Linked DNA regions of Homo sapiens. The protein of the gene in region 2 purifies or fractionates together with the protein of the main gene of each other region. This does not show direct contact. Each region holds a gene or a part of one and is shown on either strand. Other genes may lie near its edges. The genes, in order: EXOSC7, EIF4G3 and PABPC4.

Region 1 (3,730 bases), on a different chromosome or scaffold from region 2:
GAGTGTAATTGCATGGGGGTACAGAAGGTGTGGGATGCTTCTGGGGTGCTGGCAACATTCTGTTTCTTCAGCTGGGTACTGAAAAACACATTTAACCTATAAAGTCAATTCACTCCAGGCTGGGTTGGAGGAGCCAGGAAGGAAGAGGTGGTCCATCCAGCTACTGTAATGGAAACAGCATTAGTACTTTTCCCAGTTCCTCTAACAAAACCCCCCATGATTGAGCCCTGCTGGCCATCCATACACAAGGCAACATCTAGATCAGATCAGGGGAGCTTCAGCCAGAGAATGTTGACAAGGGCCAAGGAGTTCTGTAAGGGTCTTCCCCATTTGGAGCCTTCCCATCAGAGGAAGTTCTACTAAGTAATATCCTATTTGAACAAGTTGTCAACCATTTACACACACACATACACACACACACGCACGCACGCACGCACGCACGCACAGTATCTCCCAATTTCCCAACCCTTTGGCTACAACAAGCCTGGGCAGAAGGGCTAAAGAATACCCTCAGGTGGCCTTTACCCTTCTAAAGGACCCTGAATATGCCAATAGTCTCTCCACATACCAGGGGGACTTGATGCCTTAGAGTCCCCATTCCTTGCTGCCTGCAGGGCTGTTCTTGGTCTGAGGATGAGACTATGGCTGTGCCCATGACAGGTGTCCTCCCCTACCTGAGCAGCTGGGTTAACCTTTCTGGTATACAGTTTGGCCAGCAACTCCCCCACAGCTAAACAGCCTTGTCTGGTTCCCAATCTCTCTTTTTGCCTGGGTGCCTATAGGAACCAGCTGGCAGATGGGGAGTCATTTCTGAGGCTCAAGATAAATCAGATGACAGCTTCCTTTCCTTCCCCAACAGGGCCCGAGCACCAGCTACTGCTGTGGGATCTGGCACGCAAGCTCCCACGGTGGCCAAGAGTGCCAGGCTCACATTTCAAATAGTCTCAACAAGGAGCCTAGTGGCACAGCTAGGGGTGGGGGACTCTACAGCTTTCATTCTCAGCAAATATTCCAGCCTGCAATTTTTGTCTGCTCTAAATTACACAGGGAGTCTAAACTCATCATAGAAAAGCTCTAAAAAACAGGTAAATGTTATGTTGGCCAAAATATGAGCACTGAAAAATAATTACAGTGATTACTTGGGGGTACATATTTCCAGACACATTACATATAAGAACTACCAAAGTAAAATACAACAAACCAACAAACAAAAACCAGGATGAGGGGACTGCATTTAGTGAACTATTTTCCATATTAACATGCCTTTAAATAGGCTGCTGTGTGGACTTCAATCCCCTCCATTGTGAAACTCAGGTTGTTTCCAGTTTCTTACCATTACAAAGCAGTGTAATGTTTATTCTAGGATGTGATGAACATCCTAGAATAAACATCTTTGCTCATTTATTCAATTATGTCCTTAGGTTATATCCCTAGAAGTTTCTAATCCTCGTTTTTTAATAGGATCCTCTGTTACCTTAATGTAGGCTCTCTCATAGGATGAACACCCTATCCCACGTATTTACTCATAAATGCTGCAAATTTTCCTCAAAGTACTTGGAGCATAAAAGGGGGAAAGGTCAATCAGTCAGAATAAATGTCAACTCCAAAAAAGCATAGCAACTTGTCCCTTCTACACAACCTGTTTGGAAAGCTGAACCATGTGGAATAGCCATTTCCTCTTCTTAAACCAAAGGGAAGCCTGTTACCCTGCTTTTAGAACACACATGTGTACAATCAAGCAATATGCAAGCACTTACTATGTGTCAGGTACTGTTCATGGTGCTAGGAATATAGGCAAGTACAAAACAGGCAAAATCCTTGCCCCCATAGAGTTCACCCAGTAATAGTATTTGGATAGTTGGCCTGTAGGTGGTGTCTACTCTTCTTGGCTTCTCTGTAGTTTTCTAATATTTTTCTAAATGGTAGGTGTCTATTTATAAAAATAACAATACAAAAAATAAATACAGAATATACGTATATATGTAGTTTTAATTCACGAAATCTATCTTTTCTGGAGTTTAACGTTAGATGTCACCATTTTCAATGTTAAAACCCCCTGTTATCTTCACATATGAGCTACAATAGAAATTTCCTCAGTGTTCCATTACAAGTGTCTGCTCTGGTTCTCCACAGGTTCGCAGAGCTGTTTCTAGGAAGACTTACCTTGTATTGAAGAGAGCAGCCTTTACAGCAATGGAAATGGCATCAAACAAATTTCCACCACATTCCAGAAGCTAAGGGAGACAGGAATTGAAAAAGGAAAAAAAACCAAGCATCACTTATTACTTTAGGTATTACCCCAGTTAAAGGACACTGCTTTTTTTTTTTTGAGACAGAGTCTCGCTCTGTCACTCAGGCTGGAGTGCAGTGGTGCAATCTTGGCTAACTGCAACCTCTGCCTCCCAGGTTCAAGTAATTCTCCCACCTCAGCCTCCCGAATAGCTGGGATTACACGTGTGCGCCACCACCCCCAGCTAATTTTTGTATTTTAGGGTTTCACCATGTTGGCCAGGCTGGTCTTGAACTCCTGACCAAAAGTGATCCGCCTACCTCAGCCTCCCAAAGTGCTGGGGTATAGGCATGAGCCACCACGCCCGGCCAGGACACCGATTTTTTTTTTTCTTTCCCTAAATCTATTCTGTGGTCAAGGACACTGATTTCTAAGAAATGCTGACTGTGTGTTTATAAAATAAAGATAACATGTGGCTTCTCTCCTGGCTAGCCATGCAGTGACTGCAACTCACTGACACAGTCCTTCACCCTAATTACAGGCACTGCCTTGTCATAGCTGTGCTTACGTGGCCCATGCACACAAGGTCACAGTTGGCAGGGCTGTGGTACCAACACTCAGAGGCCATGGCTTGTGGGTGGGCTCCTCTCACAGGCACTTCAGGCAGTTGGGGCTGCCCTGAAGGTGGGACTGATCACCTTTATTTTGCCCCAGATAGCTCCCAATTGTACTCCAAGTGTTACTCTAATCTTTGCTAACATATGCCTGGCCTCCAAACAAGGAGAAAACGGTGGCTACTGATGTTGCGGCTGCTACTAGGTTCACATTTACTAGTGTAATTACTTCTCGTATGTAATGATCAATGTATATCTGATGCTCAGACATGAAATACTACATGTTTTACATTACTTATAATGAAGACTAAAGTCTCTCAGACAAGCTTCTGCCCATGAGCGAAAGTGTTGAGTGCACTTACGTATGCTCATCTAGCAGGGAAAATTAGAGCACATTTAACTGGAAGGTGGCATATCCTTCTGTCCTCATTTTAGAGAGGCCTTGGCCTGAGGTTATGGAATAAAGCCGACTGGGCTGCCCCAAATAAGAAAGGTGAGAAGTCACACATAGAAAGAAAAGTCATGTAGTTCTGTTTTTGTTTAGAGTCTATCTCCTCTGCAGTTGAACTGTGAACTCCTAAAGGCTGGGACTCTGTAGTTTTGTTCATCCTTTTATCCCCAGAGCCCAACAGAAGGGGTGCTATGAGGAAGAAGGTTAGTGATTATTTGTGAAAGAACCCATCAAAAGACAGGCTTGTGACCAATCACCCCACCAAAGGTCAGCTGTGTGTTGTTAGTGCAGCAAAGTTCTAACAGGTTTCCCTCTTGGAGTAAAAACTGATGCCATTAGAGAACTATAAAGAGCAAAGCAAAGTGAAATTTCCATGAAGTTAAATTTTCACTCTCATAAAATAACCGAACTGAGGGGAAAAAAACCAATACTGGA
Region 2 (3,500 bases):
CTTTGTCATGGAGGAGGATTAGTTACTAAATGTGGGGAAAAGGGAGCTACATTTTGAACAAAGTATAACTACTCAGAAAGATGTAGAACTAAGTTAATACCCAATGACTGAGACTTTAGGGCTCATGATGAAAGACATGAACTACTGTAAAAAATGGGGAAATCTATCCCACATAAAGAGGCAAGGAAGAACTACGTAAGGGACTTGCCAACAGGCTCAACTAACAGGTGTCTGGGCTCATTCTGCAGTATATAAAAGAATTTGACCAGCATCAGTATTTTCCAAGGAATGCCTAAGAGTTTACTGGGGAGGGAAACAAGAAAATAGGAATGGGATGGCAGAAACATACCTTTTAGGCAGCTTTGTTGGAAACAGTTTACAAACAAGGTGGAGAAAACCTTTATTTATCCCTAAGGATCACTCAGACTCAAGCCTCTGAAAACTGAAGCCAATGGTCCTTGCTTTAAGGATCACTCTGCTTGTTTTGGTAGATGACAAAGAACCAGGAATGTGTAAGGAGTCCTGTTTCCATGTTTCCAGAACACGTTTCTGTAGAAGCTAAATTATAAGGATGCATAGTAGTATAGTGATTAGGCCAACAGGATACTCAAACCATTGGCAATCTACTTTTGGCCCCAGCGACTAAATCTTCCAGAGATATTTCAAATATATTTTAGAATATGTAAGTTGAGCAAAGGTTAGAATAAATTTTATTATTTAAAAGATTAGTCATTTTTAGTTTAATCTAGGAAAACTGATAGACTTTTATATCTCTGGTTTTATGTTTGCTATGTTTATTTCTTTGAAAGTACTCTGAATACTCTCACAGTTGAGAATAAAGCAAGGGTTGTTATTAAAATATTTTTCTTGCACTGAAGTATGCTCCCTTTACACTTCAGTAAGTCTAAACTAAAAGAGAAAGCAGCAACTTGATTGGCTACATGGATCAGTATTTTGTTAACATTACCAAAACATATAATCGTATCTCCATTTGAGAAATAAACTTCCTATGTTATATTCTACAGAATCTGGAAACCCTTCTACATCCTTAGCTGAGCTTACGAGAATATAAGGTAAACTACAGGTCAGTGGCTGATGCCATCCTTACATTCCTGGGGGTGTAGAAGGGTGTGCCAGTCTCTATAACCAATGAATTTGTATTTTTAACACCCATAAGAAAAGAGAGATCTTGGATCCCTGCAAAGTGGGAACCTGGAACTGAGATGCTCACATAAAGCTCTGAGACTCCCAAATGGGTGACATGCTCAGTGAAAAGATAGCTTAAAAAAGAGAGAGAGGGAATAAACCACTGAACCAACACAGTGATGATGAGAAAGGACGTTGTTTCAACTGGATGGAGAGAAGATTGCTGTTACCCTGAAAATTAGTATCCAAGCCATACGGTATGGCTGTCCTTAGGCTTTGGGATAGAACTGTAGCTTTAGGACATTAAACCCAGATTTAGTTCTAACAAACATTAAACCCAGATTTAGTTCCAGCAAATGCTTTCCCCAAGACATGCAGCAGATAAAGTAAACACAAATCTGCTTTAGAATAACTTGCCATCAATCTACATCCAGGAAAATTTATCTGGATAAGTTCATAAAACAAACTTACAAAATATACATTAAAAATGTACTATAAGCAAGAGCCAAAAAAACAAAATAAATAGAAAAATTAGAAATCTCCCTCTGCCTAAGAAAATTTAAATAATGGTTTTATATCTGATACAGGTAAAAATAATAAAATAAAAAAGTCACAATTCTTTTAAAAAGTGGGAAAGTTAATGTTACATACTATACATCATATACATTCCTAAAATTGTAGAAAACAAACTCCTGGATGATTAATGGGGAATGCTTTCCCACAAGTTCAAAACACTCCTTTTTCCTCCCACCAGATACAGAGAATAAACAATAAAAATTCCCAAGACTTTAATATATCATCCAATTAATATCTAGTTTTATGCATTTAATTACTAAAGTGACGGTGATATTAAAAGTGTGGCCAATAACTGAGGCTTTTCAGAGTACACTGAAGATATATACACACCAAATTCTAATTTTACAGAGCTTGTTCTTCAATCCGAAAACAACTGATGCTTTCTTTTTTTTTTTAAGATGGGGTCTTGCTCAGTTGCCTAGGCTGGAGTGAAGTGGCGCGATGTTGGATCACTGCAGCCTCCATCTCCCAAGTTCAAGCAATTCTCCCACCTCAGCCTCCAGAATAGCTGGGATTACAGGCGCATCACCACTCCTGGGTAATTTTTGTATTTTTAGTAGATACGGGGTTTCACCATGTTGGCCAGGCTGGTCCCAAACTCGTGACCTCAGGTGATCCACCCTCCTCAGCCTCCCAAAGTGCTGGGATTACAGGCATGAGCCACCGCGCCCGGCCTCAACTGATGCATTTTTATTCACTCAGAAATATGATCTAGAATAGTTACAAGAAAATGTTTTGCAGCAGAACTAAAAGATACCATATCCCTTATGTTATAACTTTACTGCTTTAACCAACTATCTCTATACCAACTGATATGTTATTTATGTATCAGGTTTCTGAAGCCAGCTTTGAGGTGTTTCATCCTCAGGCAGAGACAAGTAAAAACTATTCTCAAAAGTCACCACCAAAAGACTCATAGGCAAACCAGACTGTTTTGGTGTTACAATTTATTAACTTCTCAAAGTAAACGGCTGTTATGATTTACTAACTTCTCAAAGTAAACAAGGTATAATAAGTGAATATTATGTGAATAAGTGCAAATAAATTATAGTCATTAAGCATATGACCACGTCAGGTGGATATACTTAAAGACTGGAGGTAATTTTAATTTTCATTGTTAACTTTTGTGACAAAACCATTAAAAAATATTCGGACAGAAATGAATGGGTCAGAAATGCTTCTGAGGCTTTATAATTTACAAACTGCTGGCCAGGTGTGGTGGCTCATGCCTGTAATCCCAGCACTTTGGGAGGCTGAGGCGGGCGGATCACAAGGTCAGTAGTTCGAGACCAGCCTGACCAACAAGGTGAAACCCCGTCTCTACTAAAAATACAAAAATAAGCCAGGCGTGGTGGCACACGCCTATAATCCCAGCTACTCAGGAGGCTGAGGCAGGAGAATTGCTTGAACCTGGGAGCCAGAGGTTGCAGTGAGCCGAGATTGCACCACTGCACTCCAGCCCGGGCGATGGAGCGAGACTCCATCTTAAAAAAAATTAAAAAAAAAAAAAAAAAAAGCTAGAGTTGCAGGGGTTCTTGAAGTTCATTTACTGTTGGATTTTGAAGACTATTAAGATGTACAAGGAAATTATAAAACTTGTAATTCCCTTAAACACATAGGTTAAAAAATCAGGAGACTAGAAAAATGCCAAGAAACTTTACCTCCCAACATCACAAACCTCTGTTATTCCAAGTCATTAAAAAAACAGTTCTTTCTTTTCTAAGTGCTCTCTGGATTACCACTGAAGAGTCTATACTCTTTGATTAAGGTGCTGGTGT
Region 3 (3,467 bases), about 19 Mb from region 2:
ACTGGCTGCCCGCTCTGAGGCATTTCTGAGTGAACTGGCATCAGGCAGAGCACTTTTAAGCCCCTTCTTTCCCACTAGTGAGCCCCTGAAGGGCAGGGACAGTGAATCAGAACATAGCGTCATAACACAGAGCAGGCATTTAATACCTGTTGAAGGAATCAAAAGCACAGCTTCTTTTACATCAAGTGGAAATGGGGGAAATCCTTTTAAGCATTCTGTCTGGTGAACCTCACCTGCAGAGGCTGTATGGCAGGATGAGGGCTGCGGACACTGGAGGCGTATTTGTAGGGGGCAACAGCCCGGGGAGCAGCAGCAGCAACAGCAGCGCGTGGCGCTAAGTTCTGCACAGCTGTGGGAACGCCTTAGGGAAAGAACAAATACAATTAAAGCCCATCAGTCTGGGCAAAGACCCGTCAAATCCCATCTTTCCCCCTTCTGTGTGCATCCAATACCACCTCCAGACTGGCAGCTGTCAGTCAGCCCTTGCTGGGCGGCACCAGCCCCACCAAAGTCCATAGCCAAGCGGTCCGGGCACTCAGACCCTACAACAGACCAGCAAATGCACATCAGTGTTGGCGGCAGATGTCCAACTGGCCACGTCCCACGGAAGGAGAAATTTCAAAGCACGTTTACGCAACACATTGCACAGGGGGCCACTACTACTTTCGAGGATGAGCCAAAGGATAACATACAACTCTTTCCACATCTTGGAATACAAGACATATTCTGTATACACTGTTTCCTTGTATTCCTCACCCCACCCAAAAGAACAAGCTGCCTCTGTGGTCATCCAGCTAGCAAACTTCTACAACTAACCTTTTTCACATAGGTCACCGATGAGCAAAGAATGTTAAAAGCAACTGACACACCTAGAACTCATACTGTTTCTCTGCTCCTGAAGTGGCCACCTAAGCACACAGCTAAGATTACAGAACCAGGACTCGATAAATTCGAGCCCAACAAACTGACCAACCCAGGACAGAGCCTAGTCATCCTGACTCCCTCCTCCCCAGGCCACACTTCTAAAGGCCAGTTTGCTCACCGACTCTCTGAGTGGTAGTAGGGAGGCCACGAGAGGCCGGAGCATTACCAGTTGGAGCCAGATGGCGAAGAGTTGGACGAGGCCCAGACTGGCGTATAGCACTTGGCATTCCTTGGAAGCCTGGTGAAGAGAAAAATTGCACATCATTGAGAAGTGATGTGGACCAGAACCTAGGCTGTGCCTCAGAGTGGGGAAGAAGGAAAGGCAGGGGAGACCAGGACAGGTATATCCTGGGCTGTCAATTACTGTTCCCCACCACCTACCTTGAGGTCTCCCACCTTGCTGCCAGCGTGGATTAGGCCTCATCTGTGCTAACTGGTTAGGTGTATAATATGGAGGCCTTCCCTGAGCCTGTAAGACAGAAGAATACCCAAACACCCCCTTAAGGACTGAACCCATCCTAGAGAAGTATCTCATCTCATCTCACTAACCAGGACCTAAGCTAATTATTTAAATGTTCTTTCTATTCAAGAGCTGAGGGGTCAGCTAATGGGGACTGTTTTATGCTACCACTGCCACTGTGGGTGTGTGTTTGTGACCATGGGTAAGTCCTTCATTTTTACTTGAAGGGTCCTTATTGTGACATTCTAGAACTCTAATAACGAAAAATCCCTCTCCCCAACCACTGCAGAATACTGCCAGCCGGCAGGTTCCCAAGAGCTGTGACCAAACAGCACACCCACCTGTGGGACTGCTGGCACAAAGTAGCCACCCGCTGCAGGCTGGAACTGATTTAAGATGGCATTGGCAGGAAGTGCTCTCATTCCAGCCACTCGTTGCATATACTGGTTGGTCAGGTGAGCCTTTCTCTCTTCCTTCCTCTGGGCCAGGGCAACATATAGTGGCTTGGAGCCCACAATGCGTCCATTCATCTCAGTGACTGCTTTGGTTGCTTCTTCAGGAGATGAGAAGCAGACGAAGCCAAACCCTTTGCTTCTTCCATCCTCCAGCATTACCTACAAAATGAGACCAGCTACTTAAGAAATAAGGTGTCCCTGGCTGGGTGTGATGGCTTGTGCCTGTAATCCCAGCACTTTGGAAGGCTGAGGTGGGAGGGCTGCTTGAGCTCAGGAGGTTGAGACCAGCTTGAGCAATGTAGTGAGACCTCATCTCAAAAAAACAAAGGGCCAGGCGCAGTGGCTCATGCCTGTAATCCCAGCACTTTGGGAGGCCGAGGTGGGTGGATCACGAGGTCAGGAATTCAAGACCATCCTGACCAACATGGTGCAACCCCGTCTCTACTAAAAATACAAAAATCAGCTGGGCGTGGTGGCACACACCTGTAATCCTAGCTACTCAGGAGGCTGAGGCAGGAGAACCGCTTCAACCCGGGAGACAGAGATTGCAGTGAGCCGAGATCGCGCCACTGCACTCCAGCCTGGGCGACAGAGCGAGACTCCATCTCCAAAACAAAACAAAACAAAACAAAACAAAACAAAACAAAAACACCAACCAACCAAACCAACAAAAAAAACAAAACAAACCTACAAATAGGAAAAAAAAGGATGTCCCTGGGTGGGGAGGGAACTATTCAGAAGAACCAGAAAGCCTGGGTTCTGCTGCAGTCACTGAGTCTAGGTCAGGGTTCTGGCACAGGATTTACCCCAGACCAACTAAGTCACAACCTCTAAGGTATCTAGGTGTTTTCTTTGAGTCCCCAGGTGATGCTAAAGTTCTGAAACACTATGATATGGCTAATAATAAAACCAGGAACTCAAAGATGTTTCCTGATACCTGGTGGATAGCTACTCCGGGTAACCACAAAACATCTTGAGAGTAGTACTGAGCAATTTATTTTCATATCTCATATGCTTCAAGACCTCGGTGGACAAACTCTAACAAGCTCTTACCAACGTCAGGATAACACTTTTGGAATACCACGTGTGGACAGGAGTCCTAAAATGTTCAGGTAACCAATGACTGCCACCATTAATTCAATGAGATGACCAGCTCAGAGATAGGCAGCCTAGATTCTAGTCTCACTTGCCTTCCTGAGGCTCAATTTCCAAGAAATACTCCAAACAGCTACAAAACCACAGGTCTACTGGTTCAGGCAGTCTTTTCCCACATTAAGTTCATCATTCACAAATGGCATTCTTCCTAATAGACAAGGTTATTCACTGTCTTCTCTGGTGTGACTGTCATTGTTTTATGTCTTAGTTAATGGCCCAGAGAGCCTCCTGAAGTGGAGGATAGGGAAGTAAAGAAGTGCATCACTCCATAACTCTCTACCAATGAGATGGGCCAGTAAGGTATGTGAATAAAAATGCCACACCATCATAATGAAAATGGGGACAATTCAAGGTATGGCTCTTCTGCTCTCTTAACAAATGCCAACTTGACTACTAGGCAGATAAGCAAGGATAGAAGATCACTCCTTACACTGATGAGGGCCAGTCAAGGGGGGGGTCATAGCAAAAACGAA

What was found.
Region 1: the proteins of EIF4G3 (region 2) and EXOSC7 fractionate together in Homo sapiens (co-fractionation; one large-scale study listed by BioGRID). This does not show direct contact.
Region 3: the proteins of EIF4G3 (region 2) and PABPC4 fractionate together in Homo sapiens (co-fractionation; one large-scale study listed by BioGRID). This does not show direct contact.

What each region holds. Positions count from the first base shown.
Region 1 is NC_000003.12:45,000,042-45,003,771, reverse strand, and holds part of EXOSC7 (exosome complex component RRP42), read right to left. Parts: intron 2,235-3,730; coding exon 2,164-2,234; intron 1-2,163. UniProt on the Homo sapiens protein: Non-catalytic component of the RNA exosome complex which has 3'->5' exoribonuclease activity and participates in a multitude of cellular RNA processing and degradation events.
Region 2 is NC_000001.11:20,935,898-20,939,397, forward strand, and holds part of EIF4G3 (eukaryotic translation initiation factor 4 gamma 3), read right to left. Parts: intron 1-3,500. UniProt on the Homo sapiens protein: Component of the protein complex eIF4F, which is involved in the recognition of the mRNA cap, ATP-dependent unwinding of 5'-terminal secondary structure and recruitment of mRNA to the ribosome. Functional homolog of EIF4G1.
Region 3 is NC_000001.11:39,563,381-39,566,847, forward strand, and holds part of PABPC4 (polyadenylate-binding protein 4), read right to left. Parts: intron 1,999-3,467; coding exon 1,726-1,998; exon of another isoform or gene 1,690-1,725; intron 1,394-1,689; coding exon 1,306-1,393; intron 1,163-1,305; coding exon 1,043-1,162; intron 543-1,042; coding exon 456-542; intron 362-455; coding exon 234-361; intron 1-233.